Linked DNA regions of Homo sapiens: all the other regions are linked to region 1. Evidence: fine-mapped expression QTL. A gene starts in region 1. Each other region holds a variant in brackets. All regions are shown on one strand. Distances are between the middles of the regions.

Region 1 (6,153 bases):
GTGCCAGCAGGCTGCTCTGAGACACGAGCTGGACCCAACCCAGGCGGTGGGCGGCAGGGGGTTGGGGAGGAACTCTGGGAAACGAAGGAGCCAGAGAAGCCTCCCTGTGGGCACTCGGGCCAACCACCACCCAAGGGAACAAAGAGCACCCCCAGCCCCCGCTGGGCACACAGGCTGCCTCCTGGTGAGCAACCCTCTCAAACTTCACCCCCAGCCCCCACCGGGCACACAGGCTGCCTCCTGGTGAGCAACCATCTCAAACTTGACCTACATCGGGGAGGCCTGCCTGGTGGTCAGTGGCTACCTTACATCCTACCTGTGCCTCCACGTTCCCAGTCCTCACAGCCACCTGGCAAGGGTGAGGAACTGAGACTGCATGGGGAGGGCACGCAGCCTGTGAGTGATACAGCCAGGACCGCCCGCCACCCAGGCCCAGAGCTCTCTCCACTCTCCCCATTCTCTAAGGACCAGGCTGCAAGGCAGGGCATGTGATCTCTGCCGAAGACATTCGAGCCACCCAGTGATGTGTGCTGGGTCTCGATCCCCACCGACCGCCAGTCCTCTCCTCCCCTGGACAGTAAAGGTTTCTCCACGACTTCGGACCATGGTGTCACCTGAGGCCCACACCTGTTGAGTCACCGGGGCAGGTATGCGTGGCAGAGGACAGCCAGGAGCGCCGGAGAGGAGCTGAGGCCTCGAGGGGGTCTCTGAAGCCAGGCTCAACCCCCACTCTCCCCACTCCAACAGCCCTCACCACAGCCACCGCCGCCCAATCCAAACAAAGCCCAGCCTGATGCCAACCTCACCATCAACTGTTTTTCCTCTGACTTCCTCAGTTTTGTCTAGGAAAAATCAAGGTGTCTTATCACCCCTCTCAGCTTCCAGGGGTGTGATCAGTGTCTTTTACAATTATCTCTTATTTTTATCCAGTATTTCTTAGCTCAGTTGGCAAACTAGGTATTTATGCACCTCCATTTCACAATCCATCCCCACCAATTATGCCTGTAAAACTAACATTTTGTTGAAAAAAAGAGGTTAGAACTACTTAAAAAGGTTTTGTAAACAAGTTAACTAGCAGGCCACAACTTGAGTCTAGGGTGTCAGAGAAAACATGCAAGGTGGAAGAGAATGAGGAGCTGACGGTCACCAGTTTCACCTCCTTCCAGCGCCCACCCAACTCTCCTGCTCACACACACTCACACCCCGTGGGACTCAGCCTGCAGCTCCTCCCATCCCAGGAGCCCAGGAGACCGGCAGTAGGGAGGGGCACAGACCACACTTCCTAATAAATAAGAGGGAAGACTCGGTGCCCCATCGCTAATGCCATCACCCAGTCCCAGCCCAGCCATGGAGCCCACTCCAAGGGCCCCCCTGACAGTGCTGCTAGAGCCCACCGAGGGAAGGCTGCCGGCACACAGCCACAAGCTCCAGCTTTACCCACTCACGCCCTGGACATTGCCTGGAGCCCCAGCGTTCCAGGTCCGTGTCACCCTGGCCCTCCTGCCTGGCAGATCCTAAGCTCAGGAGACCCTCTCCAGCCCAGGCTGCAGGGGGAAGCAGCCCCCACGGTCACCCAGGAATCAGCACAGAGGGCAGGGCATCCTGGACGCCCTGGACTGGGAAACCCAGATCCTGTCCCCTGCGTAGTGGCGACACACAGGAGAAACCCCTGCCTCACCTCATTGGAGGGACCCTGACCCAGAGGCCTGAGAAAAAGCCACCTGCAGGCTCCTGGCACCTGCCAACCTGCACCTTAGGAAAACTCGTCCCACTTCAACCTGCAAAGCTCTCGGGTCATTATTTCTAAAATCACTGTCCTTTCTCAAAGAGGAAGGAAAACAGAAAAATAAAACAAAAACAAAAACAGAAAGAGGCACAGGAGGTTGAAGAGGCCAGAGGCAGTTTAGCCCAAAAACAGTGCCAGACGCAAGATGCCGAGTTCGGGGTGCCTCACCCTCCACATGCCCATTTAGGAGCTGACTGCACTCAACCACAGATTTATGTCTGGTGCCTGCCAGGTCGTATCTGAATAGATCTGAAAAATTAAGCCTTCCTTCTGCCAGTAAATACGAAGTTAAGACTAGCAGGCCCCTCTAAGGCTCTGCTCTCCACGGCGGTCCTCGGCAGGCGTCGGAGAAAGGAAGTTCGCCCCCTCCCCGCCTGGGCACACCGAGGCCCGCTGCCCGGCCCATGGCGCCCTGCTTGGGGACCGGGGGCCTCGATGTTCTCCTTCACCATCTGCAGCCAGATCTCCCGCCAGCAGCCTTGCCAGGCAGTGCCTGCCATGGGGAAGGGGCCAGGCCGAGGGGCAGGTCCGCGCCGTGCCCCCAACCGGGCACCTGCAGCCCAGGAGCAACGGGGTGTGGGGTTTTGAATTGATAAGTTTTCCCCTCTGGGCCTTATTATAAAGGGAAAGGGAAGGGGGCGAAGATCTGGGCTTGGGTTCTCTGGGGGCAGCGAACCCAGAGGCGACCCCAAACTCAGTAGTTGCCGCCCGGCACGGGGACTTGATGCCGGTGCCAAGCAGCCCGGCCAGCCCGGCAGGAGTCGAGCGGACAGCCCCGCCACACAGCGCCTCTTGTCCGCGCCGGGTGGCCCCTTGCCGCGGTGCCCCCCGCGCGGGATGCGAGAGCCGCCGCCTGGTCCCCGCCCCGCCCGCCCACCCGTCGTGGGAGGGGGAAGCGGCCGGTCAGAGAGGAGTGGGGCCGCCGGGCTGTACCCCCATATCCCAGCGGCGGCCGCCCCGCAGCCACGCTGAGTCGGGAGGGCAGCGCTCTGGAGCGCTCGGGCCGCAACCTCCGCGCCGCCCCCCACGCGTCCGGGTCCTCGCGGCGCCCCGGGCGGCCCCAGGCTGCCGCCGCCGGCAAGTCAGGCAGCCCAGGTTCCCCAGCTTACCTGGCCAGGGCGCTGGGCTGCCCGGGTACGCCGCCGTCCCCGCCCCGCTGCCGCCGGCTCAGTCCGCGAGGCCGAGCTCTTTGTGAGCCCGCGCCGAGCCGCACACCGCGACTGCTAATGAGCCCGGGAAGCTGAATAGCTTCCCGAATAGCGGCGGGCGCGCCCCGGACGCAGCGTACGGCACGCAGGGCCGCCTCTGCCGGGCGCACGCGGCGCGGCTGCGGGGCGCATCCCGCACCGGCCTGCGGCTGCCGGGCCTGCGCCCCCGCCCCGGCCGCTTCCGCCTCACCCGCGCCGGGCACACTGGGGCCGGAAAACGATTCCCGGCTAGATCGCGCGCCGTGAAGAGAGGGAAGACAAAGATGCGTCCGTGCCGGGCGTGCGCGAGGTCCTGCGCCCCCTGGCCCCGGCGCTGGGACAGTCTGCAGGGCAGGAGGGTGCACTCGGGACCCCGGGTCCCCCCGGGCCGGTCTCCGGGATCGGGGCTGGGACCCAGGCGCTGGAAGGCGCGGCGCCCCGAACGCCCCGGGCCCTGGGGAGCACACAGATTCCCGGGCGTGCCCCGGCCGTGCTGGCTGGGGAGCTGCAGGGGTCTGGTCCCGCAGGTAGAGCCAGTGAACGCGAGGCTCCGCAGGTAGAGCCGGTGAACGCGAGGCTCCGCACCTTGCCCCGGCCGCCGCGCCCTGCTTGCTCGGCCCCGCGCAGCTGTAATGGGGGACCCTAGAGCGAAGAACCCTCGAGCGAAGAACTCTCGGGGATCGCGGCCTCCGAAGGCCCCATCCGGCAGAGGAGGCCCCCTGCTGCCTCCCCACCGCAGCTCCCCTAGGCGCATGCTGGACTCCCAAGTCTTCCCTGGCGGTCCCCGGTAACCATCCCAGCACCCCGTTTCTGATACTCTGTGCTGCTTTAGCCCCCAGCCCCAGGGCCTCACTCCAGGGCTTTCTCTCCTTGCTGTCCTAAATGGAGAGAACCCTGACCTCCGCGGGGCCCTGGGGAGCGTACACTCCTAGACACTCACATGCATCCCCAGGGGAGCCAGTCTTCCGCCCCTACAGCGCGAGAAATGCCCTGGAGGCCCTCGAAGGTCGTGCTGGAGACTCCGGTGTCACCTTTGGCCCTCTGGCCCTTTCACTGAGTCCCAGGCAGATGTGATGAGCCATGGGAGATGCACAGGATGCCTTGTCTGGGCAGAGCGGGGGCTCAGGGGCCTCCCTCCCCCCAAATCGTGGTGATTTGCCCTCGTTTTCTTTTCTCCTGTGGCTGGATTAGGCGAAGCTGTGGCATGGGAAGTTCTGCCCAGGTCAGAAGGCACAGAAGGGCAGGGGGACTTGGGAGTGAGGACAGCGCATCTTCCTGCTGCCCTGAGGGCCCGAGCTGAGACCCTAAGGAGAAGGGGCTGGGGGAAGCCGAATCCTGAGATGGACTAGGGTTAGATACACTGTGGACTTGGCCTCTCCACACCCTGCCCCCACCAAACATTCACAGGTTTCCAGGGCCAGAGCCGCCAGTGGGGGCTGCTCCTGGTAGGGGAGCTTTGTAGCCACAGGGCCAAACAAAGGGGCAAAGGCCAGGGCAGGCCAACGAGGTTCCTGACCTATGCCCCTCCGTACTCAGATGAGCACACCTTCACTGTCTACTTTCCACCTGCATAGACATTCTGCTTACCTGGCTAACACAAAGTTCATCCAGCCTCCTGTGGCCCAGCCTTTCACCAATGCCAATAGTGGGAAGCAACAATTAAGAAGAAGTGATTCTGAGAAGATAAATGCAGTCATCTTCTTGCCTTACTGTTATGTGGTCACATCCCATAGGAAACCAGACACCTGTGCCTGAAGCTGATCCACACAACACCCCCCACCTCCTCAAACCCCCACCCCCATCTGTGTGAACGTGTGTGGGCCGGTAAGTTGCATGCTGTTCCTTCAACAGCCTCCCTTGAGATCTTCCCATGAGCAGGCTCTGGGCCAGTCACTGGAAATTAAACCCCATCGCAGCACCCGGGAGTGATAGTGGCTGAAGTCCTCAGTCCACAAGATGAAAGGTATAGGCCTAGGGCCAAGAACAGTGGCTCCCACCTATAATCCCAATACTTTGGGAAGCTGAAGCAGGAGGCTCGCTTGAGCCCAGGAGTTCAAGACTGCAGTGAGTTGTGATCGTGCCACTGCACTCCAGCCTTGGTGACAGAACAAGACCCTATCATTTTAAAAAATGAAATAAATTAAATAAATTTAAAAATAAAGGTACAGGCCTGCCCCCAGCCTCACTCAGGACTCCTAAATCTGGTGAGCTTGAGCCAACTGCCAGTATTCAGAGAATTTTTGAAGAATCATTAGGACAAACAGTTAGTGCATGTGAGGCTTAAAACCTAGATGACAGGTTGATAGGTGCAGCAGACCACCATGGCACACATATACCCATGTAACAAACCTACACGTTCTGTACTTGTATCTGGGAACTTAAAATTTTAAATTTAAAAAAAAAAAGTATCTTGGAATGGGAAAGGCCTTTCTAAGTATGCAACAAAATCAAAAAGTGGTAACAAAAAAACAGCTAAGTTTGACTTCAAAGAAACTCTGGCATGGCAATCACTACCATAAGCAAAGTCTACAACAAAGGGGAAAAAATTATTTGCAATTCATATCACAAGCAGCTAATTTCCCTAACACATAGATAGCATCTAGAAATTGATAAGAAAAAAAAAATCAAAAGAAGGCATCACGGATCATCACCAGGCCCCCACCTTGGCTCACACCTGTAATCCCAGCTACTCAGGAGGCTGAGACAGGAGGATCACTTAAGCCCAGGAGTTCCAGGCTGCAGTGAACTATGATCATCCCAATGCACTAAGCCTGGGCAGCAGTATGAGACTGTCTCTTAACAGAAAAGACAAAGAAACAGGTAAAGGGTAAGAAGCAGACAATTCACAGGGAAGGAAATACAAATGACTTTTAAACATCTGAAAAGCTGTCCTCCCTTATTCATAATAAGAAATGCAAATTAAGCCAGGCATGGTGGCTCACACCTGTAATCCCAACACTTTGGGAGGCCGAGGCAGGTGGATCACTTGAGGTCAGGAGTTTGAGACAAGCCTGGCCAACACGGTGAAACCCCGTCTCTACTAGAAATACAAAAATTAGTTGGGCATGGTGGTGAGCACCGGTAATCCCAGCTACTTGGGAGGCTGAGGCAGGAGAATCGCTTGAACCTGGGAGGCAAAGGTTGCAGTGAGCTGAGATCGCACCACTGCACTTGAGCCTG
Region 2 (5,999 bases), 59 kb before region 1:
GGTGGAGAACTGGCTCCCTAACACCCTGCAAGGCCAACCTAGAGCCACGACTTGGCTCTGAGTCTCCTAACACGAGGGATTGTTTGTTAGTGCTCCTTGAAAAGCTGCTTTATTTATAAATAAGTTGCCTGACAGCAAATCTTGAAGCAGAGACATTAGTCAGTTTTGAAAATTTCCACTTCAAACATTAGCAATTTAGAGGAAAAACCCATAAATGAGGTAGTATGTAGTCCTGGTACTGAGTAAAAAGTCAATCGTTCACTCCCAGTGAGATTTACAAGGTGGTTTGAGTCTCTAGAGGCGCTTTGCTGAGGCCTCCTGATTTTAAGGCTTAGTTCTGTGATGACCCAGGCAAGGAGCTCTGGTTCCCAGGAGGCTGTGGGGCTGCCTCTCCATTCTAGATGATGGGCCTGGGCTACGGGCCTCTCATGTCACAGATTCCAGTGGTGGAGCCGCTCCAAAGATAGGAAGAAGCCTGCAGAAGCCAGGCCTGAGCACAGCCACCTCATCCCCTAGCCTGAGAGGCAGCTCAAGGAACACAGCACTCATGACAGGACAGGTCAGGCCAGGACAGGTGATGGCTCCCTGATGGCTCTGGCTCCAAAAGAAGCCGAGAGAACGCACAGCCTCTCAAGGATACTCCAGCCTCTGTCCACCTGCACACACACCAGGCCACGCCCACGAGGACGGCCAGTCAGCATGCAGCCAATACACCCACAGAGGGATGGGGAGCAGCCCTCAGTGCCAGCTCCAACAGGCCCACTGCAGGTCCTGTCACTGCACCCAAGGAGCTGCCTTCCATTTCACCTGACATTTCCACTAAGGGCCCAGCGTTTATCATTCCAGAAGAGCAGCAGGCAGAACCTTCACCTCCCAAGAGCTGCAAGTGCGCTGTGGCAGGAAAAGAAGATCTGGCGTCTGAAGTCAGCTCCTGCTCTCCAGGAAAAGAGGGACGATGACATAGGACTTGAGCAAAATGAGAGCCCCGTGATGGGAGAGAACAACTGATCAATCTTGCTGCAATGGAAAGGCTTGGTCCCTGAGTCTCTGTGTTAGCTTCCTATGGCTGCTGTGACAAGTCACCATAAATCTAGTGACTTCAGACAACACCAACTTGCTCTCTTACAGTTCTATAGTTCAGAAATCCCACAGAGGGCTGAGTGCAGTGGCTCACGCCTATAATCCCAGCACTTGGCGAGGCTGAGGCAGGTGGATCCCTTGAGCCCAGGAGTTCAAGAACAGCCTAGGCAATATAGCAAGACCTTATCTTTACAAAAAAATGCAAAAATTAGCCAGACATGGTGGCATGTGCCTGTATCCCAGCTACATGGGTGGTTGAGGCACGAAAATGGCTTGAACCTAAGAGGTGGAGGTTGCAGTGAGCTGAGATGGCGCCACTGCACTCCAGCCTGGATGACAGAGCAAGATCCTGTCTCAAAAAAAAGAAAAGAAAAGAAAGAAAATAAAAAGAAAGGAATCCCACGCAGGTCTCCTTGGGCTAAGGTCATGGTGTCGACTGGCCTGGTTCTTTACGGAGGCTCTAGGCAAGAATCTGTTTCCTTGCCTTTTCTGGCTTCTAGAAGCCACCTGCATTCCTTGGCTTGCAGCCGCTTCCTCCATCTTCAAAGTGCATCACTTCAATCTCCACTTCCATCGTCACAGCACCTTCTCCTCTGACAATTAACTCCTCCAGCTTCCTTCTTATAAGGGTCACCATGATTATAAGGGCCCACCTGAATAATCCAGAATAATCTCTCCATCTCAAGATCCATAACTTAATCAGATCTGCAAAGTCCTTTCTGTCACATAAAGTAACAGATTTACAGGCGCCACAGCTAGGGTGTGGATATCTCTGAAGACCATTTTCCTGTCTACCACAGTCTCTGAATGACAAACGCTCTTTAAATTGGAATCCTATCTGCAACAAAATCAAGATCTAAATTAAGATTTTGAAACTCATTAGGGAGAGACACATGCATGAAGAATGCAACTGGGCCGCCCACATTTGCATAACAGTAATAGGCTTGTTATCCACTGCTTCAACCCGTCACACCCAGTGTGGGCACAAACACCAAACAGCCTTATGAGGCGGAACCCTCATACACTGTCGGCCCAGAGTCCTCCTCCTCATCACGACTCTATCTAAGACGGCTGTAAACACAGGATCTCCTCTGTGGAGAGTGTGTTTTCCCTCCATCAATCTTCCTGGGAACAGCAACAAAATGTAAGGAGCGGCACCGCCTGTAATCCCAGCACTTTGGGAGGCCGAGGTAGGCTGATCACCTGAGGTCAGGAGTTACCAGCCTGGCTAACATGTTAAAACCCTGTCTCTACTAAAAATACAAAAATTAGCCAGGCGGGGGGCAGGCGCCTGTAATCCCAGTTACTCAGGAGGCTGAGGCAGGAGAATCGCTTGAACTTGGGAGGCCGAGGTTGCAGTGAACCAAGATTGGCCACTGCACTCTAGCCTGGGCAACAGAGCAAGACTCCATCTCAAAAAAAAAAAAAAAATCAATGAGCGGGGATCCTGATTTTCAGATGTCTAGCCACCAATAACCCTAAACACACAAAACTGCACTTCTCCCTTTTTTGTAACGTGAAATTTTCATAACAAACCCCCAAATCCTGAGTGCTGACAAAACCATCCCAACGACATCACCCAGAGTGGTTATTTCCTGCGCCTTGGACAGCTGCGAGAATCAATGTGATTTCAAACACGAACAACTGTGAGTGGCCAAGGTCACCCTGAGATGTCCTGAGTTTTGACTTACATTGCTTCTGACTTTCACTTTTTAATGGTCGGCTGAATACTTAGGCTCTACCAGTCTCCTTCCCTCTGGTCGTCCCCGCGCCAAACAGAAACCTTGTTTTTCACAGAGTCCTGACAGTGACGCCGCGGCTGGCTGTGAGTTGCCAGGTGGATCTCCGCATGCTCTGCTGCACCTCCTGTGTGGCTGTGGTGTGCTGGGAAGAAGCATCAGGCTCCCCATGAACAAGGAAGGCCCAGCTCTTCAGGGCAAAGTTCAAATGAAGGAGGAAGCTCACTGCCTCCCTAGGCAAAGCGGGGGCAAGGCCTCTGCCAGCCCAGGACCCTCAGGTTCCCACCTTCTAGCAGCTTCCACTCCACCTGCTCTTCCAGGTGCCACCAGACTCCAGAACCCACGTGGGGCAAGCAGCATGGCGGGGCTGCAGTGCTGCCCGGACCTTTCTGCAGGGCTTCATCCCAAACCACAAAGGAGCATCGGGCAACCACATTTCATGTTCTTTTCCAGTGTCTCTTTTTCACACTGAAGTCTGAAGTGGAGGCTTCCTCCTGCCCCTCTCTGCACGTATCTCTGCACAGTACAGCTGTTCCATTCATTTCTCAACATCGCCTTGGTTCCTT[C/T]GGCACGCCGAGCAGCACACCAGGTTATAAAAGGCACAGGTTCTCCTGCTCACCAGGAACTCACACCTTAGGGGACATCGACTCTAAGAAACAGATGGGCTTGAGGGCATGTGGCCAGTATTGCGAGGAGCGAGTCCGCAGGGTGGTCCAGACCCAGCCTGGGAAGGTGTCCTGCGGAAGGGCGGAAGTAGATGCCATGTGCAGAGGAAAAACGAGTGAGGCGGGTGATGGAGACCCAGGAGGCATCCCAGGCAGAGGGTACCGGATGGACAGTGACACGGAGGTAAATCCAAGGGCCGGAGCAATTTTCTGGGGTGACTGAGCGTACAAAATAGAGGATGGCAAGAGGCAGGTTGGCAGGTGATCTAGGCTCCTGCACACCTTTCTGCATGGCTTAATCCCAAACCGCGAAAGAGCTCTGGGTGACCGCAATTCATGTTCTTTTCCAATGTCTCTTATCTGATGTCTCTTTCGGAAGAGACACAATTTGATCCTGAAAGCAGTCGCAGCCATCAGCAATACTCAGTCACATGTGCTGCTGGAAAAGATCACTTGGCTGCAGAGTGGAGAGTGGGCCAGGGTGAAGAGTAGGCCAGGGTGGAGAGTGGGCCAGAGGTGGCAGGATGCAAGGTTTAGGGCAGGAGGCTGTTCAAACGTCCAGCAGACACAGTAGGGAGTTGGGGAGCATGGGGGCCACGGCAGGGCACTGTGTAGCGGCCACCCCAGCCTCCCCAAGCAGGACAAAGGGGGCCCTCTGGGATCCATAAGAGCCTGTGGGCACACCATGTAGGGGCGGTGTCTGGTTGGCCCATGGGCCTTTGGGTCTGGAATGGGTGGAGCCCAGGGTGCAGCCACAGCCCAAGGAGGGGCCAGGGCTGGAGGAGCCAGGGCTGGAGGAGCCAGGGCTGGAGGAGCCGGGGCCATCGATGAGCGTCCTGGGGAGAAGGGCCCATGATTCCTGATGGAGGAGGCCCAGAACACTGTAGGCATCATGTACTCAGTGCTGAGTGAAAAGCTTCCCGCCACTCAGAATGGTCACGCTCGGGATGGCTGAGACATCTGCAACTCACAACTCTCACCTCCCAGCTGTGGCACTGAAAGCCTCCCTCAGAGCCTTGGTTTCCTAACCCACCGAACAGGATTAACTGCACTTGCCAGAAAGGGCTTGTGGTAGCATTTCATAGGACAGTGCAGGCCAATGCTCTTTGGAAGTCGCAGATGCAGGGCACAGATGGGAGATGGCATGGACAGGTCCTGCTCGTCAAATAGCCGGGGAGTCTCCCATGCTTCTTGGTCTCCCTAAGCTGGGCCACATGGCAGCTCTGATCCATGGCACGTGAGCAGAGGGGACCGTGTCACTCCCAGGCAGAGGCAGGTCTGAGCTGTGAGCCCTGTAGCCTGGCCAGAACCGGTGTCCCAGGGCAAGGAAGAAGCCTTTAGTATGTTCACGCTGTTGAGGCTCACCCAGCCTGACTGGCCAGAAATCAGTTAGGCCACAGACAACCCTGTGGCCTCAGGTAGAAGGCCACTGTCTCATTCTGAATGGTAGTTTTCAAAAACTCAAGGAACCGCGTGAGGAAGGAAGGGGGATTTATAAATTCCTGATTCCATTAGCTTTGCTCTGTAATTTTGGGTGAGTCACAGCATGCACAAATTAGAGGGCTGAAAACATCTCCCAGACAGTCTGGCAGAAGCCCCCCCTGAGAACGAGGAAACCGAGGCCCAGGAAGGAGCAGAGTCGCTCAGGGGCTGCTCCAGCGGCCACGGGCCTCGGGGACAACGCAGGCCCAGCCCGGGGAGAAGCCCCACGCCAGCCTTCTCTCTCTCCCTGCAGGGAAGAGGCAGCCACACAACTGGGCATGTCCTTCTGGCCTGCACACCTGGGAGTCTCCAACAGACGCTCACTCGGGTCCTGGGGTAAGGATACCTCCCAGGTCGCTTACTGGAGAAGGAGCCACACATGTGTCCCTGGGTCTGATGGTTGCAAGAGGAAATGGAAAGTGGGGGATCCCGCGCTGGCAGGAAGACCCTGGCAGTCTGCATCAGGCAGGTGGGTCCAACAACCGACCTCAGGGTGGGCTCAGGCTGGAAAAAACCACACCGAGTTCCTCCCCCAAGAAATACTGAAGACAGCAGCAATAAGTTCCATGTGCTCCCCATTCGCCCCTCACAGAAAAGGCCAAAAGGCATGACCATGGAATCATCAAACTATTCCCAACACAGTTCCTTATGGGAAAGAACATGGAATGAAGTCACAGCCAACAACAGAACTCCAAGGTCCCCTAGTAAAGCGCAGACCCCAGACAACAAAGATACGAGTGGGTCTGAGTCAAGACAGAAGACAGGATTACACGGGAAATGGCAGCAGTGAGCTGCGAGTGCTGCAGGAAGGAGCGCGGCCCACAGTGGAGGGAGACAGCACTCCCACGACGAAGCGCCACATCCTGCACCAGCAGACTGTTCACAATTGCCCACTTGCACCTTCAAGACCACTTCCAGGAACTTCTTCCTTTGACTTTTATGTTGTTAAAATAATTTTACTTTTTTAGAAAACATAGTGTAAATATTTAGCTTAATAAATGGCTATGAGGCCAGGCGCAGTGGCTCACGCCTG
Region 3 (6,153 bases), 100 kb before region 1:
CAAGGCCGCCTCTGCTGGCTTGCCTCCTCGTCATTGTTCTCTCCTAAGCAAATGAGGCTTCTATTTTTGCTGTGAGGAGCCTGATGCCTTCCAATTCCCAGGCACCCCCTGGAGCGGGGATGGGATTTCGTTTTCCGTTCAGGCAGCTCAGGGATGGAAGCAGGGCCACCCAGGAGACCGGGAGCCAGAGTGAAGCAGCATCTGCCAATCTTCTCAGACACATCTGAGCTCCAGCTCTGGCCATGGTGACGCCTGTGCATACAGCCCCGTGTGGCCACACAGGGCCCAGCACACTAGGTTGCATTAGTCTATCTTGTGCTTACTATGACAGGCACTAACTGATTCACAGATACGAACCTGCGCATCCTCCCAGGCCCACCGTGGGGAGCCATCATCCCATTTTGCAGATGAGGACACTGAGGCATACACAGACTAAGCCTAAGGCCACACAGGAAGTGTTGAAGCTGGGATTTAACCCTGGCAATGTGGCCCCAGAATCCACACTCTTAGCTTCTACATTATGTTAGAAGGAAGAAAAGAAAAAAGATATTTATGGTACATAAACTCAACAACGGATCAGATTGATCAATAAGAAAACAGAAAAAAAGGTGCAAAAGATATGGCCAGTCATTCACAGAATACCAAATATATGAAAAAATATATATGTGAAAATAGATACATGGAAAGATGTTAGCCTCACTGGCACGCAGGGAAATGCAAATTAATACCTCATGTAGACAGCACTTTCACGCATTAGACAAAAATGTAAAATGTCTGACAACACCAAGTGCTGTCAAGAAAAAGGAGAAGAGGAAACTCATACGCTGTCAGTGGGACCACTCATGAGGACACCCACACACTTTGGAATAAAATTTAGCTGTTTCTAGTACGTTTGAAGATTACTGTACTCTCTCCCATAGCAATTCCAATCCTTGCTAAATATACTGACAAATCCAGCTCACGTTCACAGAGAGACACATACCTGAGTACTCAAGACAACCTTGTTTGTAGCAGCAAGTCACAGGAACCCAACTAAGCATCCATCAATGGAGAACGACAAATAGTCTTATGTTTGTACAATGCAATACCACACAGCAGTGAAAATGCATGAAATACAGCCACCTGTTTTCACATGGATGAATCTCACAAACATAATGTTAAGCAAAAAAGGCACACTGGATGGGCGCGGTGGCTCAGGCCTGCAATCCTAGCATTTTGGGAGGCCAAGGTAGGCGGATCACTTGAGGCCAGGAGTTCGAGACCAGCCTGGCCAACATGGCGAAACCTCGTCTCTACCAAAAATACAAAAATTAGCTGTGTGCAGTGGCGGGCGCCTGTAATCCCAGCTACTCGGGAAGCTGAGGTAGGAGAATCGCTTGAACCCAGGAGGTGGAGCTTGCCGTGAGCCGAGATCACGCCACTGCACTCCAGCCTGGGCAACAGAGCAAGACTCCATCTCAAAAAAAAAAAAAGGCACACTACAGAAAAAAATACAAGGTGATATCATTTACATAACGCTTACAGACAAAATGCAGAACTAACAGGGATAGAAATACTTATACATGTACTAGGCCATAAACAAGGATCAAACTTCAACAGTAGTTACCTCTGTGTGAAAGACAAGATGCAACTGGGGAGGGGCTCTAGCTGCAATGGTGTTATGATGCTTTAAAATACATCCACAGGCTGGGCATGGTGGCTCATGCCTGTAATCCCAGCACTTTGGGAGGCTGAGGCGGGCAGACCACTTGAGGTCAGGAATTCGAGACCAGCCTGGCCAACATAGTGAAACCCTGCCTTATTAAAAATACCCAAATTAGCCAGGTGTGGTGGTGTGTGCCTGTAAATTCCAGCTACTTGGGAGGCTGAGGCAGAAGAATCACTTGAACCTGGCAGGCGGAGGTTGCGGTGAGCTGAGATCACATCACTGCACTCCAGCCTGGGTGACAGAGTGGTGAGACTCCATCTCAAAAAAAAAAAAAAAAGAATATATATATATATATATATATATCTCTCTCCACATATTCTTTGACACTCCCTTCAAAGAGTGGAACCTAATTCCTTTCTCTTTGAGTGTGGCCTGAATTTAGTGACTTGCTTCTAGTGAACAGACATAAGCAGAAATGACAGTGTATGACTAATGAGACCAGGTCATAAAAGGCACAGCGGCTTCCTCTCTACTCTCTCTATACTCTCTCTTGAATCACTGAGGCTGGGGGAATCCGCCTGCCATGTTGTGAGGACACTCAAGCAGCTCTGTGGAAAGGTCTATATGGCAAAGAACTGAGCCCTCTTGCCAGCCAACAGCCAGGTGAAGTCGATCTTGGACGTGGATCCTCCTGCCCCAGTCAAGCCTTCAGGTGCCCCAGCTCACATCTTTCCCCTCCACTAGAACCACCCAGCTCAGCTGCTTCCATATTCCTGGCCCACAGACTATGTGTGAGATAATAAATGTTTACTGTTTTATACCACTAAGTGTTGGCATAATATGTTACACAGAAATAGGTAACCAATATGGTAGTATTCTCTACCTTTAGCAGCTTGTGGATACCTAGCTGTTCATCACATTATTCTTGTTACATTTTTGTATGCTGCTACAGACTGAATGTTTGTGCCTGCCCTTCTCCAAATTCAC[ATG/G]TTAAAACCTAATGCCCAAAGTGATGCTATTAGACAGTGGGCCTTTGGGAGGTGATTAATGGGATTTGTGCCTTTGTAAAAGAGACTCCAGAGAACTCTCCTGAGCCTTCCACCAAGTGAGGATGTAGTGAGAAGATGGCCTTCTATGAACCAGGAAGCCCTCACCAGACAGCAAATCTGTTGGCGCCTTGATCTTAGACTTCCCACATCCAGAACTGTGAGAAATAAATGTCTGTTGTTTGTAAACCACCTAGTTTATGGTATTTTGTTACAGTAACCTAAACAGACTAAAATATATGCCAATTGTTTCCAAAGACTAACATAAAAATAAGAAGGGGACCAGGAGCAGTAGCTCATGCCTGTAATCCGAACACTCTGGGAGGCCAAGGCAGGCAGATCACCTGAGGTCAGGAGTTCAAGACCAGCCTGGCCAACATGGTGAAACCCCGTCTCTACTAAAAATACAAAAATTAGCCAGGCGTGGTGGCACACACCTGTAATCCCAGCTACTAGGGAGGCAGAGGTGACAGTGAGCCAAGATCATACCACTGCACTTCAGCTTGGACAACAGAGGGAAACTCTCAAAAAAAATTTTTTTAATAATTAAAATTTTAAAAAGAAAAGCAGAGTGGCCAACAGTAGTGACCTGCTAAGTACAGGCTGAGAAGTGGCGCTCCTTCTTACGGAACAGGCTGAGTGTTCCTACGAAACAGGCATCCACTGCAACACTCAAGAGTGCTGGATGACAGGAAGTGACCAGCCAGCGCTGGCACAGGAAACGCTGTCTGTCACATTAACCAACTAGTGAGTCCTACACCTGAATGGGCTCAGCACTTTAGTTAATGTTTGCAGATGTTGGGCAGTGACAAGCAAGGACGCAGAGTGGGCACATACTTTGTCCTTTTGGGTGATCGGGGAATGGCTTCTCTCCTCCAGGAGGCAGGAAACTTTGAGAAGCCTCCTCTATGGGCTGGAGAGCCGCCGGGAATTGTAACTGGGCAGGGGAAGAGGAGGCAGAAGGATTTACTGCATTACGATATTAATTTTAATTAAGGAGACTTTTTTAGGCCAAACAAGCATATGCTTGTGCCTGAGAGGCAGGGAGGGCACCACATCCCCCAGGAGGATCTTGCTGGAATGGAGGTGTCTGGCAAGCCCAGGGCAGCCACCTGCTCCGCCGCTCCTCCCAGGTCCTGAAGCCATCAGGAAGGACTGTTCAGAAGCCAGGGTCTGGCCACCAACACATCTGTCCTTCTTTGTCTTCTATCTCTCTCCTTCCTTCAGATTCCAGAAAGCAGAAGTGCGTTTCATAGAACGAACCAGCTGAGCTGGTCAGACAGAGTCAACCGGATCCAGTTAAAGCAGCAAGAACTCGTTACATCCAGGAGACCCCATCTGTACCAGTCTCGAAGATCCGCTGTGGAACTACTGAAGACCACTTATTTTAAATCCTTTCTAAGAGCAGAAATCCAAAATCTCAACATGTGCTATTTCCCTCAATTTACTCATTCCAAGAAAAACGAAGTCCAAAATCCATTTTAATTGAAACAACCCCTTTTCTGGCCATGATCTGACAACAGACATCACCGTAACACCTAATACACACATCCCACGCATGCTTTCCTTTTTGAAAAACAGTCAGCTGAGGTGGCAGAAGCACTTAGGCCTCCTTTCAGTGCTCTCTGACCTCGGCTTGTTAGGAAAATGACCACGAAAATCTGGACCCGATGTTGTTTGTTCTCATTATTCACTGCCCTCTGGCTGGTAGACAAAAAGTGCAAAGCATGAAGGGGCGTGTGGGGTGCTGGAGCCTGATCTGAAAGCATTGTGTGCCCTGGCCCAGAACATGCTGAGCCCGTGCCCCTGCAGTGCAGCCACAGAGCACAGCAGCCGTGCTCAGCCTCAGGGCCTCCCAGAACCCCACCTCCTCCTCTTCTCCCAGCCAGTCAGAGCCTGGCTCAGACAGACACAAGCCTGAAGGGTGTGATGTCACCAAACCTTCCTGCCACAGCCACCCAAGCTCAGCCTCAGGATCCAATGTGTACAGACTGGACAGAGGTCAGCTCAACCACTGAGGCAGAGGGAGCACCAATCCAAGCCGCTCTGCATCCCAGGCAGCTCCCCCAACCTCCAGAGACGGCAGTGGTTGGCGGAGGGGGAGAGAGGGAGAGAGAGAGAGAGAGAGAGAGAGCAGCTCCCCCCAACCCCCAGAGATGGCAGTGGGGGGAGAGAGAGAGAGAGAGAGAGAGATAGAGCAGCTCCCCCAACCTCCAGAGATGGCAGTGGGAGGGGGGAGAGAGAGCGAGCAGCTCCCCCAAACTCCAGAGATGGCAGTGGGGTGGGGGGGGAGAGAGATAGAGAGACAGAGCAGCTCTCCCAACCCCCAGAGATGGCAGTGGAGGGAGAGATAGGGATAGACAGAGAGAGATATACAGCAGCTCCCCCAGCACCCAGAGATGGCAGTGGGGGACACCCAGAGAGAGACAGAGAGACCCTGCCTCTCTTCTAATGAGTGGTAACCACAGCGCGCCCCTCCACTGGTCTGAGTTGGAAACGGGACCAGGAAGGATCCTGGCACTTGAGAGGAAACCACAGCAGAGAGACTGAGTCAGGGGGCTGGAAGCTGATACTGGCTCAGAACTGGGTGGCAGTATCAGCCACCCAGTGGCTAAGCCTAGGTTCTGTGACACTAAGCCTAGGTTCTCCCAGCTGTGAAATGGGGATAATTATAGTCCCCTATAAGCCTATGTCATGGGGTTGCTACGTGGCATAAATGAGGTGCCGGCAGGTACTCAGTGGGAAACACACACCGGCTCTTGTTCTAAAGCCCTCAGAGCCCTGCCTCCGCAGCTCCCCCTGCCCTCACTCCCCCAGCATGGCCCGGCACTCAGAGTCCCGAATAATAACGCCTCGAGAGCTTGCTTTCAACCCCACTGTGAGCCCCTCCAGGGCAGGACCCTACACCCAGACTAGCCTCCCCGATCCCAGAATCCCCCACCTTGCCACCTGTGCACCCCACAGCAGTGTAACTGATCAACCGAGGGCACGCCTCACACCAAAGTGTGAGTGTCTGCACGGCCTCTGGATACCTTCAGAGAGGACACTCATTAGCCCAGAGAAAGCCAGGTTCCTGGGGCAGGGCAGGGCAGGGCAGGGCAGAGGTCTTCTAGCACCACTTATACCTCAGCAGGACTCAAGCCCAGGGGTGGGGACCACAGAGTGGCCTGGGTGCTTGGGATCACAAATCCCATTAATCTACTCCTAAAACCCTTCCCGCAGATCCCATGGCCTAACCTTCCCCAGAGGTGGGTTTCTCGGGAGAAGGCAATGTTCTGTCTTGGGCTACTAAGGAGCGTACTCCACCCAGTGGGGGAAAGGGCCCATCTGCCCACAGAGCTGACCCCAGGCCAGGTCTCTCCAACCCACTCTGACAGTGACTTGGTGGATCCTCCTACACCGCGAGGTGGGTGGGTGGGGCCCATGAGCCGACAGCGCTCCTGGAGGCCACCTTGTTCA
Region 4 (6,153 bases), 33 kb before region 1:
AGGGAGGCTGCCCAAGAAAGCAGCACAGCTCCACCAGGAGGACAGAGGCACTCAGTGCAGCTGGGAAAAGGGACCTGGGGCACTCCAGGGACAGGATCTCCGAGGTGAGACTGACAGGGTTACAGGGAATGCACAGTCTTCTCCTAGCAACTGGTCCCCTGTAAATGTCTGTTCTTCCCCTTTCGCCTCAAAATAAATGTAAGCGTATGTGAAGTTTGTGAAAGCAGAAAGCAAAAATATTTACCGTAGCTGTGTTTAAGCTTTTATTAGAGAAAGGTGAGGGCCATCGTGGCTATAACTCTTCTTACGGCCCCCAATTAGCACATCAGCCCAGACTCATTCATGAATGCCACATTAAGTGCAGTGGGGATCATAACGGGTTCTACTCACTCAGAATCTCCAGACACAAGAAGAGGCTCACCCCGTCTGTCCACAGGACAGTCCTGGCCTATTGGTGGTTTGTCCACAGGAGATTCAGCAACGCGTAAATATTCAGGAGACTGTAAAGAAAAAGAACACAAACAAATGAAGCGTCAACCAGCTGAGAAAGGAAACCACTTATTCACCCACAGAGGGGCAGGTGTGGATGGCAACGATGGGCCACACGCTCATATGGGAGGCTAACAGCTCCCTCCCCAGAACCTCTAGAGCAGCTGGAACTCCAAGGCTCTCCAGAGCAGCTGAATATCTGAAAAACCAAGCGTCACAAGTTGACCGTGATTCTCCCCCAAGTCTTCAAGTGAACCTTCGTGTTTATTTCCAAAGGTCAGTGAGTATGGACAACTAATGATTTCGGGCCACAGGTAGCAGAGCTGCATGCTAAGCTTGTGGGGAGTACATTTTTCAATGTAGGAAGATTTTGTAGGAAGATAAGGGAAATCTCGTGCCATTAATATTTCAGGTTTCATTTGCTCTGACAGGAAATGAAACACATTCATCAGGGTTCTGTTCCCAACTTGTTTTTTCAAAGTACAAAATGCTGCCTGAGATACAGAGCTTGTGGCATAGAGCATGCCACACCTAGTAGGCTGGGGGATGTTCTACCAAATACACTAAACAAACCCCCTGCAGAGAAAGGGTGATGGTGCCCACGTGCTGGTGCCCAGAGAAGCCATCAGATTAGCCAGTGACACTGTTTCTCCTTGAGATGCAGGTGGCCATCAGCGCTCAGCCAGCACCCCTTACTGATCAGCACCATCTGCCTGGACTTCGCACAGAACTGAGCTGCAGAGATAGACGTCCTAGCTCTGCCACTGACATCCTGAGAAGACTATGTAACCTGCCTGTGCCTCAGTTTCCTTATTATGAAGGATGATGGCAGCACTGAGATATGGGGGTTCAGGCTCCAGCTCCAGCACCTGCTCCCAACCCCTCTCACCCTCATCTTCCTACCACACCAAACGAGGGAGCTGACAGCCATTCCTTAAGAGGTTCCTCCAGCTTTAACATCCACGGCTGCTGCCTTCCAACTTGATACTTCCTCTAATCTGTGTTTCCTGCCTGGGAGCAGGCCACCCAGCTGGAGGCCTCCTAAACCCAAACATTTATTCCCACTCCACGGGCCCACTCTGATACTGAAGCACAAGAAGGAGTAGTGTCCATTTTGGGGAAACCCAGGCCAAACCCCACCTGCCTGCTCCTACCGTGGTGTGGGCATGAAAGGCACACCAAGAGCCAGGGACTCTAATGGGGCCCAGGGAGGCACAGTTCTGCATGACAAGGCCATTGCCTCCAAGTCATGGCATGCAAAGCACCTGAGGTCCTGGGCCTAGACCCTGCCCATGGCTTCCTTGCCCCATCACACCCCAAATCCCTGTGCCATCTGTGCCTCACCTCTTCTGTGCCCATGTTTAAATCTTTTTGTTGCTGTTGTTCCTCTAGAATCTTCCTGGCAAACTCCTATTCATTCTTCAAAACCCAGCTGGTGCAGGCATCTCTGAATTCTAGGGGAAATCACACTCTTCTCAGCCCTGTCTTCTTTCTGCAGTCCTCACAATCATTCGTGACCACTTCTCCCATTCCCTCTCAGGCTCCTACCTGGCCCCGAGAGGGCACACAGTTTATAGACTGCACATGATGCTGCTGGCCAGTAAACCCTCAAAAGCAGCCTTAAAGAAGGAAGATAAATGAAAGCAAATGCAAAGGCCGAGGAGGGGCCTCTGCTGGGTGAGGAGGGAGCATCGGGCTGGGAGTCAAAGACATCGGGCTACAGAGGAAGCAAGCTGCCACAGAACATGCCACTGTCGCCACACGGAGCACCCACAGCCATGCTCAAGCCCATTCTTATCCCACGGACAAACGGGGCCTCCAGATGTTTCGGACTGAGGAGGGGGTTATCACATCAATATGGATCAGGATGACCTGGGGGAGCGGGGCTCATCTGGGAGCCCCCAGAAAGGAAATGCAGAGGTTGCCCTCAGGGCCAAAAGTACACAGCCCTTCTGGGACAAGACAGCTGCAGGATGCTCACTGAGTCCCCGCTGCAGGGTGTGCTGATGAAGCTGTTCAGGAGACACAGGGAAAGAGCTCCTCCCTGACCTCTGCCTCCTCTGGGAAGAACCAGCCCTGCATACTGAGCCAGAGAAAGCCTGGCCTGCCCAGCTGTGCCCCTGCCGGCCCCCACAGCACGCCACACTGCAAAACCACCGTTACCTGCCACGGGGCCGGGGGCTGCCACCTGCCACATGTTCCTGAAGCTAAGCATACAGCCGGTTTGACCCGGAGCAGAGGGGCAGTGATGCGGCACCCAGGAACCAGG[A/G]AGTCAGCGGTTGTTCATTCTCCCTCCGTTCAACAACCGCGGGCGGGGCTCAGGCTCCTGGCTTTCTGTGTGTCGCAGTGCCCAGCAGATGACTCTCCCTGCAGGGCGTGTGTGGCATCCTGCCTCCTTCCCTTGACTCGGCCTCTCCCCCTGCCCACCCAGGTAAAAGGTTCGCAAGGAAGTGCAGAACACTCCAGCAACTCTCAGATAATCCCCACAACCGGCCGGGCGCAGTGGCTCACGCCTGTAATCCCAACATTTTGGGAGGCCTAGGTGGGCGGATCACGAGGTCAGGAGATTGAGACCATCTTTGCTAACATGGTGAAACCTCGTTTCTACTAAAAAACGCAAAAAATTAGCCGGGCGTGGTGGCGGGCGCCTGTAGTCCCAGCTACTCCGGAGGCTGAGGCAGGAGAATGGCGTGAACCCTGGAGGCGGAGCTTGCAGTGAGCCAAGATAGCGCCACTGCACTCCAGCCTGGGAGACAGAGCGCGACTCCGTCTACAAAAAAAAAAAAATAATAATCCCCACAATTAACTGGCAAGCGGCCCTGCCCAGCCTCGCAGTGAGTGGGCGGGACAGGAACGTTCGCTCGGTGATGTGGGCAACAACCCCAAGCAGGACGCCAAGCGACCGGTCGCCCGCTCTCCAGCTGCCATGGCGACACCAGGCCCAGCAGTAGCCTCTGCAGCCCCCTCCAACCGGGATCCTGCATAGGCCCCGCTGCAACCACCCCCAGCCCCACCCCCACCCCCAACCCCACCACACCCACACGCATCAGGCACTCCTTTAAAATACATCCCGCCCGAGTGTTCCCACAATGACGCGGACGCCAGGGGGCGACCAAAGGGAAGGCTGGTGGAGAAGAGCACCGGGATTCCTCCTTGCAGTGGGGGAAGCCATCTGCTTCACCTCTCCCACCTGGGAGTCCTGCTTCCTCCAAGGACAGGGACTCGGGGCCTGGAGGGGGCGTTGCGCATCAAGGCTGCTCCTGTGTCCCTCTCCCTTCAGGAGTGAGCCACGCCTCCTTTCATGAGTTCTCCCTGTGTGCCAGTTGGCCAGGTGGCCATTCCAAAATAAAGAAGGGGCTTGGCTGCCGAGGGCAGTGGCCTGGGTTGAGACCCGGCTCTGTCACTGACCGGCTCCGTGGCGCCAGGAACGCTTCTGCACCTCCCTGTGCCTTTTCCCTCACCCACGGAGACCGCAGGCAACGCTGCAAAACTCAAAGCAGACCACCTCAGCCTGCAGGCCTTCCCTTCCCGCCGAGCCTATGCCTCCCAAGTGCTCAGCAAACACTCGCGGTGATTCTTATCCCTATCTGGGCAGAATCCTCGGGGACCGACTGGGGGCAGCTTCCTTGCCCCACAGTGGCATCTAAGCAGCAGGCAGCTGAGCTGGGGTAGGCAGGTGAAAGGAGCAAGGGAGGCTGCTGAGACCAGAAAGGAGCAGAATGGGGCGGGGGCAGGATGCAGTGAGTGCTGCTCCCCAGAGACCAGCTGGCCCCCAGTACCCCTGCCCCACGCCACAGTAAGCCGGGGTGCAAAAGGATGTGACAAAAAGTTCTCCTCAAAACAAGAGTCAGCTAATAAGACAAAAAGCAACTAACGATCTACTAAAACAAAGACATGGTAGCTGAGTCATTCCCCATTTGTCAAAACTCATAAAATATACAACATGAAGAGTGAACCCCAATATGTTTTAACTATGGGCTCCAGTTAATAATAATACTGCCCCATCAATGGTAACGAATGTACCACACCAATGTAAGATGTTAATAATGAGGAAACAGGGGAAATGGGGTGAGGGTGTACAGGAGAACTCCCTAAACTTTCTGCTCAATTTCTCCATAAACCTAAAACTGCTGAAAAAAAAATTAAATCTATTAATTTTTTAATATGGTGGTTGATTCATTCAAAAGGCTAAATGTGAGAATGGGATACCATTAAACGGCCAATGGGTAAAGGGAAGATGGGGCTACAGGATTCTCCCAGAATGCAGTGCAAGCCGGACCCTAGGAAGGAGCCCTGGAGGGGAGCAGGTTTCTCCTGAAGCTGGTGAGGGCCATCAGGCTCTGGGTACCATCTCAACCCCCCTCATCACAGTCCCTCTCTCTCCAAATTGAGGAGTGTTCATGAGAATTCTCAGGATTTTAGTTATTTACCGTCTTTCCCCAGTACTGCTTTCCTGGGGGTTTGGAGGGAGGGCAGGGAGGATGGAAACAGGAAAGGAAACGTTAGTAACCATGCCACCCTTTGCCCGGGTCCCTGGCTTCTCCCAGGCTGCCACATTTCCCACCTCATGGCCTCAGAGAGTCCCCCTCTCTCTATTCAGCTGTTGGCAGAGAATTGCTTTTTTGCTAGCTTTCCCTTTTTTTGAGAAGTGTATTTCTTTAGAATGAAGCCTTTCAGAAAGGCAATTCAGCATTCTCTATCGAAAATTTAAATAGGCATATCCTTGTGCCCAAAAATTCCATTTCCAGGAGGACTCACATGTATAAAAAATGATGTCTGAAGATTTTCATTGCCGCAATCTTTTAAAAAACTGGAAACCTAAGTACCCATAAATAAGAGAATGGTTAAATAAATGACGACAGAGTTCACGTGCTGGAAGAGTCAACGGCGTTTTTAAAGAGGCAGGGCAACGCGCACTACAGTGAGGGATCTTACAGGCCTGTTTTTGAGGGAAAATGGTAAGTGAGCTACAGCGAGCACACGTGTGTAGATCCCAGTTACAGGTCCGTCAAGATGGCTAGAGAATACACACACTGCCCAGCCCATACACACGTGCAAAGGCACACAGAAAGGGGAAACCCCTCAAAGGCTTGTCAGCCATGTCCTCTGGGGAGGGGAGCGGGGAGAGAGGTGGGAGAGGGAGACAGGTGGGAGCAGAGGGGGCCTGGACATTTTACTTTATTAAAGATATGTGTACTGGTTGAGTGTTTCACCAAAATGCATCTAATATTCAGCAGCAATATAATCAAACCCACCTGTGTGCCTTTGAAGGTCTCCTCTTCTAGCTGGGGAGATGTCGGCACTGAGACAAAACGACCTGTGGGGAAGGGTAGACTGCAAGGGGAGGAAGCAGGACTTCCCAAACGGGCCGCCACTCTGGGCATCAGGAGAGGTGGCGAACAGGCTGGTCTCCCCCAGGAAGGCACCCACGGGAGCAGAGGAGCCAGCCTCCCACAAGACCAGGACGTAAGCACGCCCCAGGGCACAGCCAGAGACACCCAAAACACAGGAGGCGGTGCTGACCCAAAGGAGGGCAGGACCAGGGAATGTGCCGGCCAGGACAGCCGGGGGTGCGCAGGCGGGGGCAGTATTAATTTGGGGAAAACAATCATTCAGTTTCATTCGATGAGTAGTTTACGTGCAAATGTGTGTGGCGGGGGTGTG

Alleles and levels. Alleles are on the strand shown, and positions count from the first base shown. SD is a standard deviation of normalised expression in the study named. Not every link is listed here.
For the expression in follicular helper T cells of the gene that starts at base 3,200 in region 1, G is the high allele of the variant in region 3 and ATG is the other (large effect, 1.0 SD a copy in Schmiedel 2018).

Evidence for each region. PIP is the estimated chance that this variant, and not a neighbour inherited with it, causes the effect.
Region 2: its variant is the best candidate, but not a certain one, in a credible set for the expression of APBA2 in whole blood (TOPMed, PIP 0.82).
Region 3: its variant is the best candidate, but not a certain one, in a credible set for the expression of APBA2 in follicular helper T cells (Schmiedel 2018, PIP 0.81).
Region 4: its variant is the best candidate, but not a certain one, in a credible set for the expression of APBA2 in blood mononuclear cells (TOPMed, PIP 0.65).

Annotation. Positions count from the first base shown.
Region 1 is chr15:28,883,021-28,889,173 of GRCh38, reverse strand. APBA2 (amyloid beta precursor protein binding family A member 2) reads right to left here and starts at 3,200. Exons shown (of 15, transcript NM_001353788.2): 1 at 2,896-3,200.
Region 2 is chr15:28,942,034-28,948,032 of GRCh38, reverse strand. All of the region lies in intron 2 of APBA2 (amyloid beta precursor protein binding family A member 2), which reads right to left. Among named protein-coding and RNA genes, the nearest start is that of APBA2, 59 kb to the right of the region's middle. The variant C/T (reference allele first, on the strand shown) is at 3,386.
Region 3 is chr15:28,983,588-28,989,740 of GRCh38, reverse strand. All of the region lies in intron 2 of APBA2 (amyloid beta precursor protein binding family A member 2), which reads right to left. Among named protein-coding and RNA genes, the nearest start is that of APBA2, 100 kb to the right of the region's middle. The variant ATG/G (reference allele first, on the strand shown) is at 2,636.
Region 4 is chr15:28,915,987-28,922,139 of GRCh38, reverse strand. APBA2 (amyloid beta precursor protein binding family A member 2) reads right to left here. Exons shown (of 15, transcript NM_001353788.2): 2 at 391-500. Among named protein-coding and RNA genes, the nearest start is that of APBA2, 33 kb to the right of the region's middle. RefSeq lists enhancers at 2,743-3,332, 3,500-4,022 and a silencer at 3,540-3,834. The variant A/G (reference allele first, on the strand shown) is at 2,759.